Regions from separate parts of the Homo sapiens genome. Here region 1 is linked to region 2. Evidence: fine-mapped expression QTL. A gene starts in region 2. The other region holds a variant in brackets. All regions are shown on one strand. Distances are between the middles of the regions.

Region 1 (11,688 bases), 320 kb before region 2:
AAATATAAATAAAGTTCACGAATTTGCTGGGTACTTTCAACTCAATGCAAACACAGGTAAGCTTTTTGTGCTCTAAAAGTACTGCTTCAGTATTTTTACTTTTGAAAATTATAAAATTCTTCCAGAATGTAATACACAGTACTTCATTAAATTGACATTTAAAAGCAGAAAATAGTATCCTAGAAATTGTGTCCACCAGTGCCTAGAGAACCCTGTGAGGCTGAAGTACTGTGTTGTCAGAGCTTGCCATGTGACGGTGGGCCAAGTGCCCCACCTTTGTGAGCAGGAGTTCCCCCCACTGGGAAAGTAGATACAATCACCTCTTGCTTAAGACAAGAAATATACATGTGTATGGCCACATTTTGGTTTGATAACAAAGGAATTAAAGATGCCTTGATCTGTGCAAATCTTCTCCCCTGGAAAAATACATAACCAGGGCACATGTGCTCAGCATTGCCTTCCAAAGTTCTTTCTCAACCTTGTAAGTTCTCGTTCTGAGGGCATATAAAGTATGTTTATGCAATCCCTTGTGAAAATAGATGAGGCAATATGGCTAGTGTCATAAGCAATACATTGATGAAGAAATGATTCAGAAACAAGAGAAAGGCAAATAGGTGAGCAGTGGGGTAGAGGAGCATTGACATTCTAAGTGGCGCAGTTATTCCCTGGGTTGAGTGGCACATTTGGTCTCCCTGGCGCTTGGAACTATAAATACTCTAGTAGCAGCCCTGCCCACCCCCCAGCCATTGTGCCAACTACAAATGCCCACACATTTCCAATCACTCCCTAGAGTGCCTGAGAATTAATGAATGGCACAGCCATTATCTTGGTGCTTTATATTTTACAGCAAATGTACCTTCAGGATGAAATTTGCTAAAGAGACAATTCATATAGTACTTTTACCCACAATGTTTTTATGTTAATAGCCTTTTAGCTTAATGCTTTTGTGCTTTGCAAACTAATTCTGGAACACATTAAGTGTGTTAAGTGAGGGATACTTATACAGGGATCTAAACCTACCAAATGGAATTAGCGTGAAGGAACCTTTGACAAGCAGTTTGAAGACAAAGTGCCACATCAATGTTCAAAAATATAATTACCACAGTGGAGGCCATTATCACATTTCTCTGCTTATGAGAACACAATTAAAATTAGGGATCTCTACATTTTCCTTGAAAGGGTGAGTTCAGTCAGTCAAGCAAGCAATTTCCTTAGCAATGACTGGGAAGAAGGTGTATTAGTATGATGTTACAGCCTCAAAGGACACCGTGATAGACCAGGGTGGCGAGTAGCTTCCAAAAATGGCTCCTAGTAATTGCTGTTCCTGCTGTTCACACCCTTGGGGAATCCCTTGCCCTTGAGTATAGATTGGACTTAGTAACTTGCTTCTCATGAATAGAATATGAGAAAAATGATGAAATATCACTTCTGAAATTCAGTTGCAAAAATCTGTGACTCTGTCTTGCTCTTTGTCTCCCTGGCTTTTCTCAGCCTGCTCGCCCGCAAGGCAAGCTGCCATGTTGTGAGCTTCCCTATGGGAAGGCCCATCTGGCAAGGAACGGACGGCAGCCAACAGCCATCAAGGAACTGAGGCCCTCAGTGTAACAACCCATGAGAAGAATCCTGCCAACAACCATATGAGTGAACTTAGAAATGGATCGTTCCCAGGCCAACACCATGATTACAGGCTGTGAGAGACCCTGGAACAGAAGACCCAGCTAAACTAGGGCTGACTCATAGAAACTGTGGGTTAGGAAACATTTGTTGTTTTAAGCCACTAAGTTTTGGGGTAATTTGTTACACAGCAATAGATAACTAATATACCCAGTCTACTCTAAACAACAGGAAGCACTCACTTGTGGTGTGACTCCTGTTTTACATTCTTTAAGATTGAAAAGCACCCAGATTTGTATATTTGAATAAGAAGGGAGGCAGGGCTGAGTACAAAACCTCCCTTAACATTTCTGGCAGAAAAAAACAAAACATTATATGGCAAGATGGCATCGAAGAGAGAACATCTAGAGGCAGATGTGGTATCATCAGATCACTATCTTCAAAAATTCAAGTTGTATAACTTCTCTAGGATTCAGTTTCTTCCTGAAAGAGCTGGTGATGTGACTGGGCTGGACTGTAATAACTGCTAACATTCTATACTACTTGATTTGGGGAACTCAGGCAGGCACCACCCCCAAGTCTCTTCGTCAATAGCTGGAAACTCCATCATTAGGAATTTGTTCCTTAGTGCTTCCAGAGACTGTCCCTGAAGTTACTACTCAAGATGAAAAATTTTGGATGGTGAGATAGATGGGGAAGGAAATTCTATGGATACCTTTAAGGATAGTGCAGAGATGGAGGTTCTTGTGTTGTTATAAAGTCCCTGAAGGGTAATGGTGACAATACCAAAGTTAGGCATGGTTGATTTCACAATTTTGAGGACCTAATAAGCTTCCTCTTTTTTGATGTGGACTATATAACTGATCACATTTCTCCTCTTACCTTGGCTGCAAGGAAGCTGAGAGCAAACACAAGTTCAGTCACAGATACTGTTTTAAATTTTATGGTTCCTTTATCTGTTTGTATTCTTTTTCTCTGTTCTCATTTTTCTATTTCTAGTTTATCACGTCTTTTGTCATAACCCAGCTCAAATCCTTTATGGGCCAGCCTGGGCAATATAGTGAGACCCCATCTCTACAAAAAAACAAAATTAGCTAGGCATAGTGGTGCACATCTGTAGTCCCAGCTACTCGGGAGGCTGAGGTAGGAAGATTACTTCAGCCCAGGAGGTCGAGGCTGCAGTGAGCCGAGATCTCACAACTGCCCATCAGCCTGGACAACAGAGCAGAAAAAAACAAAACAAAACAAAACAAAACAAAACCCTTTATGGAAAAAAGTTGGAAGCATAAATACATATAATAAACACAAGCATATATGTTTGAATTTTTTCTCTAATTGTGATAACACAAACATAAATCGTGAATCTGGAGATACACTTTTATCTTGATTATTTTCTAAATTTAAAGTTAATTTGGCTTGAGGGGGTGCAAAGATTTAAATTAGCATAATTTAGAAAAAGCATAAATTGGAAAAATTAAAACACAAATTCCAACAATATTTGTACCGTTTTTATTTGTAAAAATAACCATCTGAATGCATTTCCATAGTATATTACAGTTAAGTACTTCATTACGTTATTAGAGCATTCAGTAGTTGCAAAAGTATTAAACTGTGCTTGAGAAGATTCAGATTGTTTCAAAGTCATTCACTGAACTAAAAGTCATTTTCCCCATTTTTACAGTCATGACATTTACCAGAGTCATTCAACTCCAATTTACATAAGAAAACATTATAGACAAAATCCCACTGAAATCATCAAACAATATTTTATGCTGTTACAAATATGTTATGCAAAATATAACACTGGCACCAGATTTGTATCATCGTGCTTTACAAAGATATATTGCACATGCTAGAGCATAAAATATGTAGACAAAACTACCAAATAAAAGATATTTGCATTGAATTTTTAGATCACATAAGAAACGCATAGAATTACATTTTATACAAACACTCAGATTGTCACTATCTTAAAATGCTTTTCCCCTATAATACTGACCTATGGTTTATAGTTTCGTAAGACGAAAGCATTTTAGCACTGCAAAATCAAACAATTCCTATAGAAAACTTAAGCATTTTCATATTCATTTCAATGCAAGTACAAGGGGAAATAGGAAAAAAGACACTTTATACATTCAAAGAAAAGTTGAAATGAAAACTCACTGGTATCATATTGCTCTGATAACACTCAAATGAAAAAATACAAAACATTCCACAGAACATTTTCAGAATATACAAATATAAAAAGGCACTCTAACTTCATATTACAAGACAATAAAACGGATGAGTTCTTCAACCAACACAACATATAAGCACACCAAGTTGCTCAACAGTACAAAGAATAACTAGTGCAGCAAATCCATTTGATGTTCTTGTTCTAATTTAATAACAAAATGATAAACCAAGCAGTGTTTACTGCCTAAAGTACCAAAACATACTATGGTGCCCTTTTAGTAGTGATAAATAGAAATACCCTGAGCTATTTACTGTAGAATCATAGCAGATTTTAGGCAATTTGGAGATAGTAATGTATTTAGCAAAGACAGGCAGACACTGGCAAATAAGTAAGTGCAATGAAACATGATCCTTGTAGTTGTGGTTAAAATACAGTCTAAAAATAACACAAATAAAAGCACTAAGCAACTAAGACTCAGTTAAAAACACATTTTTTTTTCTTAGAAAGCTATGGTGCAAACATAATTTTATTTCTAAGAGATGTAATTAAAATACAGAAATGATAGTTTTTAAAGTCATTTCTTTAAAAAAATTTTGCCTTGGGGTATGGGAGAAAGAGAAAGAGAGGAAGAGAGAGAGAGAGAGATCAGTTGATGTAATGAACAGTTCATTGTGAGCATGATTTCATTTCGTTCCTTTGTCCTCCTTCTATGAGTAAGAGAGTGGGAAAAGTCAAAACGCAGCTCCATGGAGATAACGTCTCATGGTGAGTCACTGCTTTGCTGAAATGATTCTTGTACTCTCTGCTACACGACAGGAAAAATGTTAACGCTGCTTTGCCATTAAAGCAAGCATTTCATTTCCTGCTTGAAATGCCAACTGAGCAAGATTTCCATTCACTTCTAGAAAAAGACACCGCAGCATATTGTGCTTCTTCAACACTGAACCTCTCTTAATTTTCAGTGTTTTGGTAAAGATAAGGTCATTATTGCTCATTAGCAATTTATCTGCTTTTTAAAAATTCATCTTCTCTAAACAAACGAAAAGGACAGAAGGTGGGAAGCACAACACCAAGAATTCAAAAAAACAATGGTGGTGGTGTGGAAAATTTTCAGTGAAATCAATACCAGTTCAATAAATCCTTTGAACAAGTTCTCATTTGTGAAGAACCCAACAGGAGTTTTAATTAAATCCAGGATATTAAGAGTAAGATTAAAGTTTTATAGCTAGATGAAAAATATAATACAGTTATCTGTCTTTGATCCAGATATGATAGAACATTATTTTTGAAATATCTCACATACACTATAAAATAGCAATTTCCAGGGTGGAAATGGAACTCATTATAAAACGTCAGAGAGTACTGCTCTAATTCGACACATTTCTTTTCTGTCTCTTCCTCAAGTAGAAAATAGCACTTGAGCTGGTGATTTTTATTTCTCCTTTTGGCACATGTGCCCACACACTGCCATCATTTCTCATCAGGTTACTGAGACTATGTGAGCTTTTCAGTGTACTTAGGGTAATTTCTAGATATTTCTTTGTGCTGCCTTTGTGTATATGATCCACTACACATCTGAGTTTTCATCTCGCAGAAGGGCATCCAGACTGCAATGTCTTCTAAGCTCTAAGCTGGCTACAGACTGTGGCTGAGCAGTAGAAGATGCGTAGCCCTCTCTAACCAACGCGGAAGAACCTGAGGGTCATCTGGAAACCTTAGCAGTGGAAATGCTAGGTTTGGCCCTTGGGCTTTTGGCTAGCCCAGGGTCAAGTGTTTTTTTTTTCACTTTTTTTTTGTTATTCTAAATAAGATACATAGCAATTAAAATAGAGAACAAATAATGGATGTTTCCTCACCATTTGTTTCATTTCAAATAAATATAAACACATTTACAGCAAAAGTATATGGACATTTTCTCTAGTTTGGCAAAAAAAAAAAAAAAGGTCAGCACATCATCAGTTACAAATGTTAAGTGGTCAACTAGAAATCTGTGTCCTAAGAAATATAAAATACAACAAAGACTGGTACACAGAAAGATTACATTTAACTCCATAAAAAAGCTACTTCAGTTCTCACTTGCATTTTGAAGGAAAAAAATGTGTATCTTCCATTTTAGACTGAAGCATTTTGGTCCTCATGTGTAGCTGGCTGATGAAC[T/TAC]ACACACACACACACATATATATATATATACACACGCACACATATATGTGTGCATGTGTATGTGCATAATTTTTAAAGAGTCTCATTCTTCTTTTTGTACAGCGGTTCCAGGTGTGGAACGGGGTCCATTTGACCTAGAAGCTTTGGCAGAGGGAGCAGACACAGTATTCACTATGTTGATTTCATCATCAAGCAACTGGCAATCGGTTTTACATGCTAAATCACCCATTTCTACTTTCTGCTTTCACTTTTTTTGTTCCTTTTTGCAGTCACACTTTTCACTGACTTGGTATGACCTTGACTGAGAAGCTCATTTTACTACTGATGAACAATGCTGATGATTCTGATGTTTTTTAAAAGTTAGTATTTTGATTTAAGAATAAATTAACAAAGGGTAGTTTCATACTATTTTTGCATATTGTGTCAAAGTTTTGGTGCAATATAATTTTCACCTGAAATGTTATTAGATAAATTTGGGTTCAATCACTTAAGTGAAAATTAGTCACAGGCTTGTTATAGGGAACACTGTGTTAAACAAAAAAAGCAAGTTCAATTTTTCAATTCATCTGGCAACTTTAACAGAGATCCTCAGAAAGAAGTTCTGGATATTCAAATGCTTACTATAGAGAGGATATAAATAGTTGGACTCTCTAAAAAGATTATTACAGGCATTATTTCTGAAGATGGACACCTTTACCTTTGGCTTCTAGTGAGGAAGTAAACATCAAAGTGAGAAGAAGTTTGAGGCATTTCCTATCTGCCTCTTCCCTTCCCTCCCAGGGGACATGAATGTCACACTGATATACTTCTGAGAACTCACTGCTAAATACATGAAAAGAAAAATTATTCATAGCGAACAGCTGCCTCTCTGCTGCATTATCCCCAAAGAACAGGAATTAAATACATCTTTTATTCTTTATTTAAAATGAGAGGTAGACTTTCACAGAAGTATCTTAGATTTAAAGAAAATGTGAAACAAAACAAAACTGGGGCCATCTGTGTGACTGTTCCACCCAACAGCCTCACTGCCCTCCCTCGATTAATTCCTTCTCTACTAGCTTCTGGAAGCCCAGGCCCCAAATAATACTTGAATACAACATAAACCTGGAATTCAAGCTTCTTTCCTTTCCTCCAACACAGGTGATCAAAGAAAAGCTTCTACAGTCCAAAGTCAAAACGTTTCCGAATCAGAATCATTTTCATTGTACCCATCCTCCGAGCCTACGTTGTTACTGCACAGGCTAACCATGCTACCCAGATTGGAGAGGGTCGTCCTGCTCAAATTGTCTTTTTTTAAACAAACGAAGTTGACAGCCATCATTGTACTGGAAGGAGAAAAAGGCATCATGGTAGCCAAAATGAGGGCCAGGCAGTCAGCCACGTCTTTGTTAGGAGCGCAAGCCAGGGCCGGGGTATGACCTGGGCGTAAATGCAGACAAGGCAGTGGTTAGTCCTGGGGAGCCTAGAGGAGGCACGAGCATTCCACAGTACATCTCGGATGATCTCACAGGCGGAGATGTATGTTGAGTTAGAAATCATGCCAGGTAAAACGAGGAGTTACTTCTCACAAGTCATGCTAGGGGTGAGGCTAGAGGGGGAGGGAGGGGGAGACATTTTATGGAGGGCTTTTTATTTTTGTTTTCAGCTCATATGACTATGACAAGCACAATATCATCCAAAGTTAGGCAGGATTCCAGCCTTCATTTAGTGAACACAAACACAAGGGGGTGGGTGTGGGACACAATTCCACAATAAACAGCAACAGGACAATCAGGAGGATGTTTCCGCCTGAGAGCACACACACACCATGAGCCTCAGGCCTGGGCCTGAGAAGGACTCTCATTCTGAGAACAATGACTTTCCATTGTTAGGTAATTGTGTGTCCAATTAGAAAAGATATTGAAAATTAGATGACTGCAAAAGTGAGTAATGAAGTTTTGTCACTTTATATATGCTTCATAGAAAATAGACACCAATAACTGGTTTTAGAAAAATGGAATCATTTCAGTAGATCAGAGACAGGAAAGCACAGGTTGTTTGTGATTAAAAATGTACAATCATTTAGGAGAAATTTAACAAATTTTTTTTTTGACAGAGTTTCACTCTGTCACCCAGGCTGGATTGTAGTGGCATGGGGCCTTGATTTTACTACAGCCTTGTCTTCCGGGCTCAAGCAATCCTCCCACCTCAGCCTCCCGAGTAGCTGGGACTATAGGTGTGTGCCACTACTACCGGCTGATTTTTTCTTTTTTTGGTTTTTTTTTTTTGAGTCAAGGTCTTGCTATGTTTCCCAGGCTGTTCTCAAACTCCTGGGCTCAAGCGATCCTCCCACCTTGGCTTCCCAAAGTCCTGGGATTAAAGGCGTGAGCCATCACACCTGGCCTAACAGAATATTTAAAAATGGCCACTCACCAATCAAAGTCTCAAATCTAAAATGTAATGGATGTGAGAAAATTACTATGCTTGTCATAATTAGAACCATGTTATTCTCATTTAGACTCAATGGATCCAATCCAGATAAGAAAACTGTCTTAACTCATAATATAGGTTCCTTGGGGAGGTAGATTAAGTCTTTGACTTGATTATTTCCTTATCCAACCTTTATCCTACTGGCCTGAAAAGGGTTAGCTGCCTTCTCAGCTGGCCAAAGTTTCCACTACACAGTGAGTAGGGCACTTGCTCAGTAATTCAGAGGAATGGCTCAATGAAACTTAACGTTTTGTTGTTTTGTTTATCATCACTCGACCTGCTCTCCCCACCCTGCCCTTTAGGACATCATTCCTTTTTCTGGTATGAAAACAAATAAGAATGAACAGGTAGTTTAACATTCCATTTCACGAAAGTCAGTGATGAGTAAAGGAATTATGGTTGTACTGCTATATAAAATTGCCCCAAACGTTCCCAGGCCTTTGGGATGCAGGTGCGCACCAACCCAGGGCTCTTGTTCCTAAGGTCACTATCAGCTGAACAAACCTTCAATGCAGCAGATTTACACCAGGAAAAGCAAAACTAATTTATTCTATTCTCTTTGACCATTTTGGAGAAAAACTGTGGGCCTCTGCAGGCCAACCCTAAGTCTACAGTAGTGTTAAGAGGGTGAGGGAAGGTGAGGCGGGAAAACCAAGGAAATGGAGTAATAGGGAACTTTCTGCACTTCCTAGATGAGTCAGGTGGGGGACACAGCAGGGTACATGCTAGGATACATGGGGCTGCAAAATCAAAACTAATAAGAGTTAGCTAATGATAATCAGTATGGCTGCTTACTTCTGAGAAATAGGCATGAGCTGCTAATTCCAATACCTGTAATAAGCAGTTAATTGAGTTACATTAATACATTATAATACTTTAATTAAATGCCACATTTTAAAAATTACATAATTCATAAACATCCAGAAGTTCCTTTTTTGCTCCCCAAGGTTAATAGGCATTGTGCTTAAAATGGCAGTTTAGTACAATTCTAGTAGCCATTCCTTTCAAAATTTCTTAGGAAGCAGAGTAGAAAGCTTCTGTTAAGAATTAGTTCATTAGGAAAGGAACATTAATACAGATCAGGGGAAGCTTCAAGCCTAGACGTTAATTAAGAAATTTTACTCTTGTTCCTCACATTTCCATACTGGGAATATGAGTTCTGATCTGTACTTAAAGAAAAAAAAAGTTTGATCTCAGAATGAACTTAAATACAATCAAAGATCCAGGTTTTTATTTGAGCCCTTGAGCATGCATTAATGACATGTGTAGTCCCTAACTCTTCAGCATTTGCAGTTAAAATTTTGAGTGTCAACTTGAAACTCTTAGTGTGTCTAAGATATTTTAACCACTGTGCTGAGGAGTTAGAGACCAGCTGCTGGCATTACATGCAAAATGGACAGCACTGGGTGGCCTACAGGTAGACTATGTGATTTACAAAAAGACAGACAGGACAAGTTATCCTTGCTTGATTTCTCACACACAGGACTTCCAAGGGGGACAGAATTCTTAAGTGCCTTTTATACTAGCTCCTATCTTTCTCATTTCCTCTGGCTTCAACTAGCTTATGGAAGGTACCTGCAGTCGCTGTTGACTTTTTCCACTTACCATTTTCATCTACAGCAAGTACACAGGCCCCTTTGGCCAGCAACTCCTCAACTACCACCTTTAAGCCATTGCGCGCAGCGACGTGGAGGGGTCTAAAAAACACAAGACCGAGCATCAGTTGTGATACATATTTGGGTGAGAATGTGGAATTTTTGTTAGCCCATGTCACTAAAAGGAAGAAGTACTTAGACTCTACAAATAGTACATGGATGTTTTTACTTAAGAAAAAAAAATGCTGACCAGATCTTTTCCAGGTGCTAATGGTCCAACTGTTGTTGTATGTTTGGCCCAGATCTTGCTGCAGATATTACAAATATTCTGCATCTCAAACAATCTCAATGACAGTAAATACGAAGACAGAGGAAGAACTCAAGCTTTGTTGTGTTTTGCAGAAGGCCCTTTACTGCTTGATTTCTAACACAGCATTTGAATCACTGTTTCACACAGTTCAACAATATGACTGGCATTAATATCAGTCATATATATGTATAATTTCAAACTTCCTTGTTACTACTAAATGCACACAGATGTTTTACTGAATTTATAATACCTTAAAGAATTATGTCAAACTCAGTATATTGTGCTATATACTGCTTAAGAATCTTTTTCTTTTTTTTTGAGACAGGGTCTCACTCTGTCACCCAGGCTGGAGTGCAGTGGCACGATCACAGCTCACTGCAGCCTTGACCTTCTGCTGGGCTCAAGTGATTCTCCTGCCTCAGTCTCCTGTGTAGCTGGGACTACAGGTGCAAACCACTGTGGCTGGCTAATTTTTTTATTTTTTGTAGAGAAGGGGTTTCATCATGTTGGCCAGGCTGGTCTCAAACTCCCGGGCTCAAGTGATCTACTTGCCTCAGCCTCCCAAAGTGCCGGGATTATAGGCATGAGCCACGACACCCAGCCAACAGTCTTCTTCTTCTTCTTCTTCTTTTCTTTTTTTTTTGTGGGGGGACAGTCTCGCTCTTGTTGCCCAGGCTGGAGTGGTGCAGTGGCACGATCTCAGCTCACAGCAACCTCCACCTCCCAGGTTCAAGTGATTCTCCTGCCTCAGCCTCCCAAGTAGCTGAGGTTACAGGCACCCACCATCATGCCCAGCTAATTTTGTTGTTGTTGTATTTTTAGTAGAGACGGGGTTTCACCATGTTGGCCAGGCGGGTCATGAACTCCTGGCCTCAAGTAATCCAACTGCCTCGGCCTCCCAAAGTGCTGGGATTAAAGGCATGAGCCACCACGCCCGGCTTAAGAATCTTAAATGAAAAAAATTCCTTTGCCTTTAAAACAAATGCATAAATAATTTCCTAAAGCGGAAAATGAAACAGCTTTTAGATCTTTCACACCAAGGGTTACACTGAATTATATTAAAATATAATCAAGACAAATAGCTTAGAAACTCTTCAAATGTATTCTGGGAAACTGATTTGCAAAACTGTCATTTTCCAGTCAGAATACATAATGCTAATACATAATACAAATAGTTTCCCCAAATATGTCAGTCCATAAAATTTTTCTAACAGCCCACTAAATTTATAATATTACCCCAGAAATATCAGCAAAGAAAAAGAGAGACTTCACAAAATTAAATGAAGACATATCAAAAGAAGGATTCTAACTAAAACTGCCCAGCTTGGTCAGCACTTGTAGGTATGTGACTGTCACCTTCATGCAGG
Region 2 (11,688 bases):
ACAGCAAAAGAGGAAGTAAAAAGTTGAAATCTTAAAAAAGAAAGAAAGAAAGAAAAGAAAAAGAAAAAAGTTAGTTCCATTAATCCAGAGCTAGAGCTTATGTGCTGGCGTTGGCTAAAGAGCCAATCATATATGTAAGAGAAGAATAAGTTTATTTGGAAAAGTCATTGGTGTAGAGAACACAGATATCAGCTATGTGCACAAGTGAAAGGTAATGATATTATCACACGAAAAGTTTAAAAATTTTAACTGGCTACCCAGACAGAAGACTAGAAGGAAACATATCAAAATGTCAAGAATAGTTATCTCTTGAGTATACAGGCTTCAGATGGTTTTAAAATTTTTTGGTTTGCTCATCTAGCTTTCTGCTTTTCCTATAATGACCGCAGTTCGTTTTATATATATATATATATATATATATGAAAAAAATCACTGAACTACCAACACATCATTCACCGGGGTGAGGAAATGGAGAGGCTAATGGGAAAAGCCAGGTATAAGCCAGGCAGGGGCAGAGGCCTCAGAGCAGCTCCTTACTATGTACAGAAATGGGTCTGGCCCAAGAGGCAGAAGGAGTTCAGGGAACGCTGTTCATCCAATGGCTTCTCTGTAAACAAGATCAGACACCCATTAATCCCATGGCTGCACTGCCCTTTCAACTATGAAAAGTATAGCCTTGTGGTCAGAGCCCCACCTGTGCAATCAGACTGCCAGGGTAGGACAGTGTGCTAGATCACTTACTGGGCGTATGACCCTAAACCGGTCAATTAGCCTCTCTATTCCTGTTTTCTCATCCATAAAATAGAAATCACACCACCACCTACCTCCTAGTGTGGCTATGAGGATTAAGACATGATTCACTGCAAAGGCCCAGTATACAATAAGAGCACAATAAATGTGTGACATTATTAGGTCTCTGCCATGAAACACCAGCCTCAAGTGCACTCTCAAAACCATGTGATTGGGTCCTGAAACAACCAGAAAAGGTTCTAAATAAAGCCTTTCTTTTCCCTTCTTCTATGCTGAAGACAGGACTACAGCATACTGTTTGCTTTAACACCAGTGCTCTAGGGAGCCATGGAAGAACAAGGGCAGCCCAGTAAAATATGTAACACGTCCCAAGGCCCCACACTATGGGCTAGAAATCCTGCTCCCAAAGTTACACAGGATTTCTAGTCTCTTGCCACTGCCACCGCTGCCAGCCACTGCCTTTGGCAAGAAGGTAGGTGACTCAAGTGTGAACTAGGACTTGGCAAGGGAACACCAAACCAGAAGGCCTCCAGGCAGGAAGCTCCAAAAAGGCCACCTGCTGAAACAGTTTGTCTGCAGGCAGCCTCCGAGATGAAAGTAGTGTTCTGCCATCATTAACAAATGCAGGTAAGAATAGTGGACACTTTAAACATGCAACAGAACTTACCATCCTAGCTTCATAACTCTGAAAATAAATTTCGGGTAGAGATCCAGGCTGAAGATACGACCACACACTTAAAATGACTACAGTGCCTTTAACTATATGACATAAAGAACACCCTAAAACAGTCAATATCAAATCAATTTTCAAAAAGGTTTCATGGCTATCTTTGAGTCAAATGCCTTAGATCTGTATTTAACAAAATTTTCTTTCCCAAACTTAAAATTATCTCACTTTACCAAAAAATATAAAACTCCTAATGTCCACATACAAGGAACTAATTACATTATTATATTAATGACATAGTTGAGGATGTTCTATGTTACACAGGGTAACCAGTTCCTCCCAGTTTGCCTGGAATTTTCCCGGTTTTAGCCCCATATGCTGGGACACCAGTCAATCTGCACAAACCAGGATGGTTAGTGCCCCCTAAGGCTGCAATAAAAATTATGTGTGCCCTGTGAAGAGGAAAACAGAAGGGACACTGTTACAAAAGTTACAAATGCAGAAGTGCTAAATGCCAAGTTTGTTTGTTTGTAGTGATAGCTCCCAGTTCCTTTTTTACAGTGAAAAAAAAAAAAAAAAGACTAAAAATTACACTGGTCTCTCCCTTTTTCTTTTTACTCTCCTGAAAAAAAAAGAGTTAGGAAAAAACATTTTCCTTCTCTTACAAGATTGAGAGGTCACTACAGGACTGACTGCTGAAGTAGTGTCTGCTTCACCTAGCAAGCTCCTGCACCCAGCTTTAGCTGGAGAGAAAATGTCATCATCTGTCACCCCTGACTTTTGCCACATTTAAAGACAAATCCAGACAATTTGTGTTTCAGGTTATCAACAGTAAAAAATCCAAGAGGCCTAGCAAAAATCAAGATTCACTTCACAAATAGGGCATTCAACAGATGAGGTGCCAGGCACAGTGGCTCATGCCTGTAATCCCAGCACTTTGGGAGGCTGAGGCAGGTGGACTGTTTGAGCCCAAGAGTTTGAGACCAGCCTGGGCAACATGGCGAAACTCTGTGTCTACAAAAAATACAAAAATTAGCCAGGTGTGGTGGCACACGCGCCCATAGTCCCAGCTACTGGGGAGGCTGAAGTGGGAGGATGTTTGAGCCTGGCAGGCCAAGGCTGTAGTGAGCCATGATCATACTATCGAGTCAGAGTGAGACCCTGACACACACACACACACACACAAAAAAAAAAAAGGAGGGAGAAATTAAGAAGTGGTTGTTTTACTAGAAGCTGAATGGAGAGCAAGGTACTCCTGTACAAACTCTAAGGCAGGGATTCCAAGCAGGCGGGCGGCTCCCTGCCCACAATGATGGAGCAAAACTCTTCTAGTAGTGGTCTAAGCAAATGGTTTTAAAAGTTAATCTGTGAGGTTAAGAACTGACTTCTAAGAATTGAGTCTCAAACAGAAAAGGTAAGACTATATAAGGCAAGAAAGACCACACACTTACTTCCTGGACCTAAAGCTACACAGAAACCATCGTTGTTCACCACCCCACCCCACCCAGGCCACTTCCCCACCCCATCTCCTTCTGACTTTGTCCCAAGATAGACTGGACATTTTCAGAAGTTCTTGAATCTTAAAACGCCTTAGGTTCTTTTTACGTATCTGGAGATGGAACCAAATAAACGTTGTGTGACTCTTCCTTTCTCTCCATACTCATACTAGTTTATTGGGGGAAGGAAGGAAATATACTTGGAAACATCTTAAAAGGCAACATCTTTGAAATTCCTGCTCTGATAAGCCCTGAAGAATAACTTCCTCTCTTTGTAAGACCAAGTAATACACTTCTCACTAGGGTTGATCTTGATCTAGGAAGAGATGTTTTCTTGTAACCCTTACAACACATCCAATGAGATGATGGAGCTATCCTATACCAACTGTAGCAGAAAGTACAAGCACCTGGAAGGCAGAAGACAAGAGCTAGTCCCAGTCCTGCAGGCCTATAGCTGGCATTCTTTGAGGAAGACTTGCTTCACTTCTCCAGATCTGTTTTGTCATTTAGAAAATGAAGGGTTTGGGCTAGATCATCCTTAGAGTCCTTACAACTCTAAACTTCTATGTGATGTTCTTTCTTATATGTGATAACAATACCTATTAGAACCATTCTTTGTACTTTGAAGATCTAGGGATTAACAGACAAGTACAGCAACGTGTACTAGCAAAGATGACAGGCCCAAGACACGCTAAAACTGTAGGATTTAAAATACGCAAATGTCTAACAGTTGGCAAAGTATGTGACCAAAAGGTGAAGGAAATCCTGATATCAACTTACACTTTTAAATGCTCTGGAACCAATGAGAACAAATACATTCATCACAAGTACCAGCTGCTCTTCTTACTAAATTTAACAATAACATGAATTTTAACTCAGTGATTTCCCCATCACCAACCCCGCCAAACACCTGTAAATATTTAGGAAAAACAAGCTAAAAAAATTGAATCTAAAAGGCAGGAGAACAAATCATTGCAAATCATTGTGGTGACGGACTGCACTTCAGTTGCAAGATGTTCTGGCTGGATACTAACTGGAGAACGCAAGGCAGCAGATGCAACCCATGGACAAGTTTGAGGTATTTAATACCAAGGGCTGGCAAGTCTGACCCTGTAGTCAAAGTCAAGATTGCCTCTCTGCCTACCAGGACCCCAAAACAAAGTTCCTTTCACTACCCACGAATAAACGGGGGTGGGGGTAGCAAGCCGTTTCCTTTTTTCGTGGAAAGAGCTGCAAAGAGTTTTGTCATGCAACTTGGTTTGGTGCCTGTTAGTGTCAATGTAAGAGCAGCAGAGTCCGCGAAGGTGGCTGTTACCATTCCACAGACCTGCGGCGAGGACTGTCAATCCGATTCAGCAAATAACCCCACCTCTCCAAGCCAGGACTCCAGAGCTGCCCTGTGTGGTGTCTCAGCAAGGAAAGCCAACAAAGCTGGTAGACACAGGCAGACCGTAGCCCACCGCCTGTGAGTGGAGGCTCCGAGCCGACTTCACCTCCTCCTCAGAGGGACCGGCCCGATCCGAAAGGGCGGTCTCCAGGGGTCCCCATCCCGCACCACGCACACAGCCTGGCGCAACTAAAGAGGAAGTCGGATGTCACATCCAACGGATAAATAAAGACAGCCCGGCCACACAAGAGCCGCATTCTGGGCAGGACTCCTGCTAGGTTTGGGGAGGGGTCCCAGTCTGCGATCCTTTCTCCCTCTTCGTGCAGCGTCCTCCTCCCCGGGGCCCGGGCCGGCGGCGCCCACGCAACGCGGCGCGGTGCGAGTCCCGAGAGCACCTCGAGCCCCCGGCCCCCTCCCCAGCCCCGCCGGGCCCGCGGCCGCCGCACTCCCGCACGCCGGCTGCCCAGCGCCCACGGGCCCTGCCCCAGACTCGGGCGCGCAGTTCCGACGGCCCAGGGCGGGGACGGCGCGGCGGAGGGGAGCTGCCGCCGCGGGCTCTCGGAGGCACCGGCGGCCGCACACAGTCCTCCCCTTCGCCGCGAGTAAACAGCTCGCGGGCGCGCTCCAGCCGCGCCCCCATCCCCCCGCCGGGCTCCGCGCCGCCCCGCGCCCGCGCGTCCCGCCCGCCGGCGCCGCCGCCCGCTACCTGGTCGGTGAGTTTGAGCACTGCCATTCTTCCGCTCCTTCGCGCGCACACACATGCAGGTCCCCGGCCCGCAGATGTCACGCCGGGAGCCGGGGAAGCGGAAGGGATTGCCAGGAGAAGGGAAAAAATCTGGCTCCCGAATTTGACAGCCCTCCCCCTGCTCCTCCTCCGCCGCCGCCTCCTCCCGCCGAGAGGCTGACACTGGCTAGTGGGGTTTGCAGCCGAGCCCGCCCGCCTTTCCACAGGAAGTACCGGCTGCTGCCAGCCGGGCCGCCACTGACATCACCGCGCGCTGGCTCGCTCGCCGCCCGCCGCCTGGGCCGACGCTGCCTCCTGCCGCCCGCAGCCGAGCCGCGCAGCCCGGCCCCCGGCGCTGCCCCCGCGCCCGCACCGGGCCGCCGCCTGCCTTCCGCACCTGCACGCGGCGCCCGGCCGGGCCGGCCCCGGGCCCTGGGCGGATCGCGGGCCTCCCTGACGGGTCTCACACATATGGGTGGGGAAGCCCGCGGGGACACACCCCGAGGGGGCAGGAAAGGCTCTCACTCACATGCCGTCCACTTTAACCGGGGAGATGGGGTTACGCCCCCTTCCCCTAACCCAGAATCAGGTGGTGGCAGCGCCCCGAAGATCCCAGGGACCGCAATTATGATGCTCCCTTTGTTTAATGCCAGGAGGCAGCGGACACATTGTGATTCTTTACAGGGTGTTTGCCAAACATTTATGGGTGGAGGGAACAGAAGCTCTGGCCCTTCCACCTTGTTCTCCAGCCACTTTCCAGCTAAACACACACACACATATGCACACACACATACTATTGTTAAATTCAAACACCCTGGGTTTGGTTTTTGCTGGTGGGGGTGGAGTGGAGTTCCTGGAGAAGCAAAGCAGTCCTAAATCACCGAGTTGATGGGTCTTTTGGGTGTTCCCACCAGTCCTTACTGATCTCTACAAAATCCCAAGTTACCAAGCTCTTCAACAAATAGAAGACAGCTGTCAAACACCATGGGCTACAGATACAACGGGCATATTCGTAAGCATAGTAGCTGTTGATAGTTCTGGAATTTGGAGCAAACACTTATTCATTGAACAGCTATGTACTGAGTCCCTACCTTGTCAGGCACTGGCTAGGCACGGGAATAAACGGAGAGCATAAATAAGATAACCTGCTCTCAGAAGATGCCAACATAAACCGCATAGTCTCTGCTAATGAATGTAATTACAAACTGAGATAAGGGATCTCAAGGGAAAACATGCTTCTGAAGTGAACCCACAACAAAGGAATCAGACCAGACTGGTGGGTGAGGGCAGGCTTCCCTGAGAAAGTGACAGGAGTTGAGATCTGGAGAAGGGAGAATTAAGTAAGCAAGTGGAGAGGAAGTGCTCCCAGGCAGCCCCATGTGCCCCTGGCAGGCCATAGAGCAAACCTGTAGGGCAGCATTGAACAGCTTTGAAGAGCAAACTAGAGCTACAGAATTCTTTGGTCAAGACCAAACATCTGCCTCTACTGTATATTCACAAACCAAATGTCCATTCTTCCTCCCTACTCTTAGAACCTCCCCCAAAGATTCCACATGAGACAGGAGAGAAAGGAGCATTAATATCCTCACATTTACCATCCAGCCACTCTGGTTGTCGAAGCAGCTAAATCTCAAATTTACCTTTATTAGTCTTATAGATTATAATTCAGATCATGCAGACAAGAAGAACCAAGGAACTTTGTTCCTGGCTTCCACTCCTCTGTTATCAATGTTGCATGGAAACAAACAAACAAAAAATTCTAAGGCCTTTCTCAGACATACAACAGATTGTTTATGTTGCATCTATGAGTCAGTTCTTCACTGCTGTTATTGGTATGTCTATTTACTGAACACCCTGCATGGCTTTGTAAGTAAACTGAATAGGACCCTGCATTCTCTACTTAAATAGAGCCATCTTTCAGAAGAGTGATAACAAATGACTTAATTTGGAAGATTCACTCAAGATCCAATTTGATTCATCGCGGACATGCCTGCACCTAAGTTCCTGGGGCCAAAGTGAGGAGGCAGCAGTTCTCCACCCAATCAGACCATCATCCTCTTTTTGTAACTAGTATCTTTAACACTCCCCTTACTATCCTGAAAGGTAATTTGTGGATAATATTACCTACCAATACAAATTTCAAAAAAAAAAAAACCAGCAACAATATATTGTCCTAATTGTACAATAAAGGAAAAATTAAAGGAGAGTAATTTATAATGAATATGTATTTCAGTAGGTAAGTGGTAAAACACAACTCTCTTTGTCTTCTGACAAAACAAAGCAGTAAGATGCTTCCACCTATATGGAGAGGCTTTGTGAATGAGAGAATTACAAATGCAGACAGATGTGAACATATAGTGTTAGGAATTCAAATATCAAGATTGGTGTTGTCATAGGTGACCTGACTTTGTGAAAGGTTGAACAACTCGTGGCCAAGTTCCAAATAAAATAGGGAGCAGAAGATTTGGCAAAATTTATTGATAAGACTACACTTATCAGAAGGTCTGCTTTTAATGTGTTAGCCAGTACTTTGACAGTGATTCAAACACTTTGTTTACTTCATTAAATGAGACTCAGACTCAGCAGTTGACTATATTCGGTGAGCTTGAGAAGCCAGAATGCCCCTGGTATAATGTAGAGAAAGAAATCCAAAGATTTGTGGAGATGGGAATGTTGGAATAATTTTATCATGTATAATCTGTACAGCCAACCCCTACATATTCCTGGAGAGCCAGATGATGATCTTTATACTGAAGCATTGAAAAATACAGGCCAGGCACCATGGCTTATGCCTATAATCCCAGCACTTTGGGAGGCTGAAGCAGGTGGATCACCTGAGGTCAGGAGTTCCAGACCAGCCTGGCTAACATGGTGAAACCCCGTCTCTACTAAAAATACAAAAAATTAGCCAGGCGTGGTGGCATGCACCTGTAGTTCCAGCTACTTGGGAGGCTGAGTCACGAGAGTCGCTTGAACCCAGGAGGCAGAGGTTGCACTGAGCCAATGACGCGCCATTGCACTCCAGCCTGGGCAACAAAGCAAGACTCTGTCAAAAAGAAAAAAAAAGAAAAGGAAAGAAAAATACATTCGAGAGAGAACGTCAGAAAAACTCTCTAGTAGCTGGATATGATGGTGGGAGATGCTTTCGTTGAGATGGCTCCTTGATTTTTATATTAGTGGGATCCTGCGACAGCAATGGCCAAGTGGCAGCACTTAGCTGGCAGAGACAAGGTGGACACATTTACTGTAATGGACAGCAGAGACAAAGTAGTACTTAAAGGTCTTAACCTACAGGTATATCTGGCAGTGCCCTAGGTTGTCCTAGGAATGAAATAGACGGGCAGACTTTGGAAATAGCCATTGATCTTTATAACAGACAAAACTCTACATCTGCCACCTGAAAGCTCCCTTGAGCCATCAAAATGAAATTATCTTTCATTCAGTTTCCGTACCTAAATGAGTTCACAGACACAGAGCTCCTTGATTAAAAGGGAAGCTGGTCCCCTTCAGGAGGGTCTTGCAGCATTGTCATAAATATATACTACAAATCCTCATCCAAGCCTTATCCAAAGGAACCTGATGTATTTTTCTAGGCTGAGCGAGTACTGGGAAAAAGGAAATACCCAGACATTTGAGGGATCACTGACACTGCTTCTGAATTAATGCTAATTCCTGAGGATTGCAAACACCACTGGATCCACCAATCAAAATGGGGATCTATGGTAGGTGATAAATGAAATTTTTAACTAAGTATAAATCAGTGTGGATCCAGTAGCTCTGCAGACCCAAACTATAGTTATCTCCTCAACTGTTAGTTAGAATAGACATACTCAGTAACTAACAGAATCCTAACATCATTTCTCTGACCCACAGAGTGAAGTTTATTATGGTAAGACAGGCCAAATGGAAGCCTCTGGAATTTCCTCTTGATACCAGAATAGAAAACCAACAACAATGCTCAATCCCTGGAAATATGTAGAAATTGGTACCACCAGAAAAGACGTAGAAGATACAGGAATGATAATACTGTCACATCTCCATTTAACTCACCTGTTGGGCCTATGCAAAAGATCTTAGAGAATAACTATGATTTGTTATTAAGTTGTAAACTTAATCAAATGGTAATGTCAGTTGCAGCTGCTATTCTATATATGCTGTCTTTACCGCAACAAAGCAACTCAGCCCTAGGCACCTGGTGTGCACTATTGATATGGCAAATGCTTTTTATCTATTTCAATTTTCACCAAAAGTTGTTTTCTTTTATATGGCAAGATCAACAGTACACCTTTACAGTCTTCTCTAGGGGATGTAAACACTCCCACTCTCTGGCATAATCTCATCTGCACAGGTCTTGATCACTATGTTAAAGACATCGAGCTGACTGGCCCTGATAAACAGGAAGTAACAAATATTTTAGCTGCCTTAACAACACACATGTGAGCCAGAGATTGGGTATAAACCCCAAGAAAATTCATCACCTTAGTGAAGTTTCTGGAGGTCCAGTGGTCTAGAAAACACCAGGATATTCTCCCCAACGTAAAAGACAAATTACTTCACCTTGTACCATCTACCACTAAGAAAAGAGACACAATACTTTCTGGGTATCCTTGGATTTTAGAGGCAATATGTATCACATCTGAGTGTGATGCTGTGACCCATTTATAGAGCAACCCATAAGGCTGGAATTTTTTATTAGGAATAAGGGGAGAAGAAATATCTGTAGCAGGACTTGATGACCCAGAGGAATCCAATGATACTTAAAGTGTCTGTGGCAAATAAGGATGCTATATAGAGCCTCTGGTGAGCCCTGATTAGATCTACAATGCAGAATTCCTTAGTTGTAGAGCAAGTCATGCCCTCTTCTGCAGATAACAATTTTCTATTTGAGGAATGGTCCCTAGCTTGCTAAGTGAATTTGAATGACTGGCCATGAGACAATCAAGTGACTGCAAGCTCAGCTGCCCATTATGAACTGAGTGTAATCTAATCTACCAATCCATAAGACCAGACATACACAAGAGGAATTCCTCATCAAATGGAAATGGTATGTAAGAGACTGAGCTTAAGCAGGTCCAGAAAGCACAAGTTGCCTTAGCAGGTAGCTCAGATTCCTTTGATACTTACTCCTGGTGCCTCCTTATCTTCAACTTCATGGGGAATTTCTTAAGACCAGTTAACTGATTTACAGACAGTTCTCCTAAATATACTGGCACAAGCTGGAAGTGGTCTATTCCAGCATCACAGTCTCAATAAGGAATGCCCCCGATGACAGTACTGAAGGGAAATTTTCTCAGTGCAAGAAATTTCCAGCAGCGCACCTAGGGTCTACTTTGTCTGGATTGAGAGAGACGGTCAAAGGTATAGATCTACACTCATTCACAGGCAATTATTGATGGTTTTGCTGAATGGTCAGCAACTTGGAAAGATGAGGTGGTCCGGGAAAGAGGTTTGTGGGTGCACCTTTCAGAATAGGCACAAAGTGTGAGGAATTTGTGTGCCATGTGAATGCTCACCACAGAGCATCTACTCTGAGAAGGCTTTTAGTAATTAGGTGAATGACACATTCGGTGGAGTGGGCCTCTTTCTCCACCTATTGCAGTGCTTGCTCAAAGTAGCCATGGAGTCAGGAATAAAGACTATGTTTGGGCTTCAAATCTTAGGCTTCTCTGCAGTAAGGCTGATATCTGACAACATCAGAAATCACACATTGAGAGGCACCATTTCCAAGGGAGACTAGTCAGCCATGTGGTAGCAAATTGATTATTTTGGAACCCTTCCTTCATGGAGGGAACAGTTACTTGTCTTCACTAGAGTAGACACATATTGTGGATATGAATTTGTTTTCTTTTCCTTTCTTGTTTTTTTTTTTTTTTTCAGGTAGGGTCTTGCTCTGTTGCCCAGGCTGGAGTGCAGTGGCGTGATCTCAGCTCACTGCAATCACTGCCTCCCAGATTCAAGCGATTCTCGCACCTCAGCATCCTGCATAGCTGGGATCACAGGAGTGTGCCACTACGCCCAGCTAATTTTTGTACTTTTAGTAGAGACAGGGTTTCATCATGTTGACTAGGCTGGTCTCAACCCCTGGCCTCAAGTGATCCACCCATCTCAGCCTCCCAAAGTGCTAGGATTATAGGTGTAAGCCTCCATGCCCAGCTGATATGGATTTGTGCCCAGCGAGTGTTTCTTTTCTTTTTGGAGATGGAGTCTGGCTCTGTTGCCCAGGCTGGAGTGCAGTAGCATGATCTCGGCTCATTGCAACCTCCACCTCCGGGGTTCAAGTGATTCTCCTGCCTCAGCCTCCAAAGTAGCTGGAACTACAGGCATGCGCCACCACACCTGGCTAATTTTTACATTTTTAGTAGAGATGGGGTTTCACCATGTTGACCAGGCTGGTCTCAGAACTCCTCACCTTAGGTAATCTGCCTGCTCCGCCTCCCAAAGTGCGGGAATTACAGGCATAAGCCACCATGCCCGGCCCAGAGAGTGTTTCTGACAGAACTACCATCCATGACTTATGTTGTATCTTACTCACTGTTATATAGTCTACACAATATTACTTCTTTCTGAGGAACTCATCTCATGGCAAAAGAAATGCAGCAAAGGACTCATGTAAATGGAATTTACCAGTCTTATCAATACCTCATCAGCCAGAAGCAGCTCACCT

What was found. PIP is the estimated chance that this variant, and not a neighbour inherited with it, causes the effect.
Region 1: its variant is fine-mapped to the expression of ANKRD44 in whole blood (INTERVAL, PIP above 0.99).

What each region holds. Positions count from the first base shown.
Region 1 is chr2:196,983,562-196,995,249 of GRCh38, forward strand. It overlaps ANKRD44 (ankyrin repeat domain 44), which reads right to left. Exons shown (of 28, transcript NM_001195144.2): 27 at 10,022-10,113; 28 at 3,101-6,088. The coding sequence ends at 6,030. Among named protein-coding and RNA genes, the nearest start is that of PGAP1, 63 kb to the left of the region's middle. The variant T/TAC (reference allele first, on the strand shown) is at 5,948.
Region 2 is chr2:197,305,572-197,317,259 of GRCh38, forward strand. ANKRD44 (ankyrin repeat domain 44) reads right to left here and starts at 5,209. Exons shown (of 28, transcript NM_001195144.2): 1 at 5,007-5,209. The coding sequence starts at 5,033. It overlaps ANKRD44-DT (ANKRD44 divergent transcript), which reads left to right and starts at 5,495. Exons shown (of 4, transcript XR_923750.3): 1 at 5,495-7,127; 2 at 8,618-8,746; 3 at 8,898-8,913. RefSeq lists enhancers at 1,819-1,868, 1,909-1,988, 2,569-2,618, 3,549-3,608, 4,060-4,561 and silencers at 4,685-5,064, 5,115-5,434, 5,445-5,524.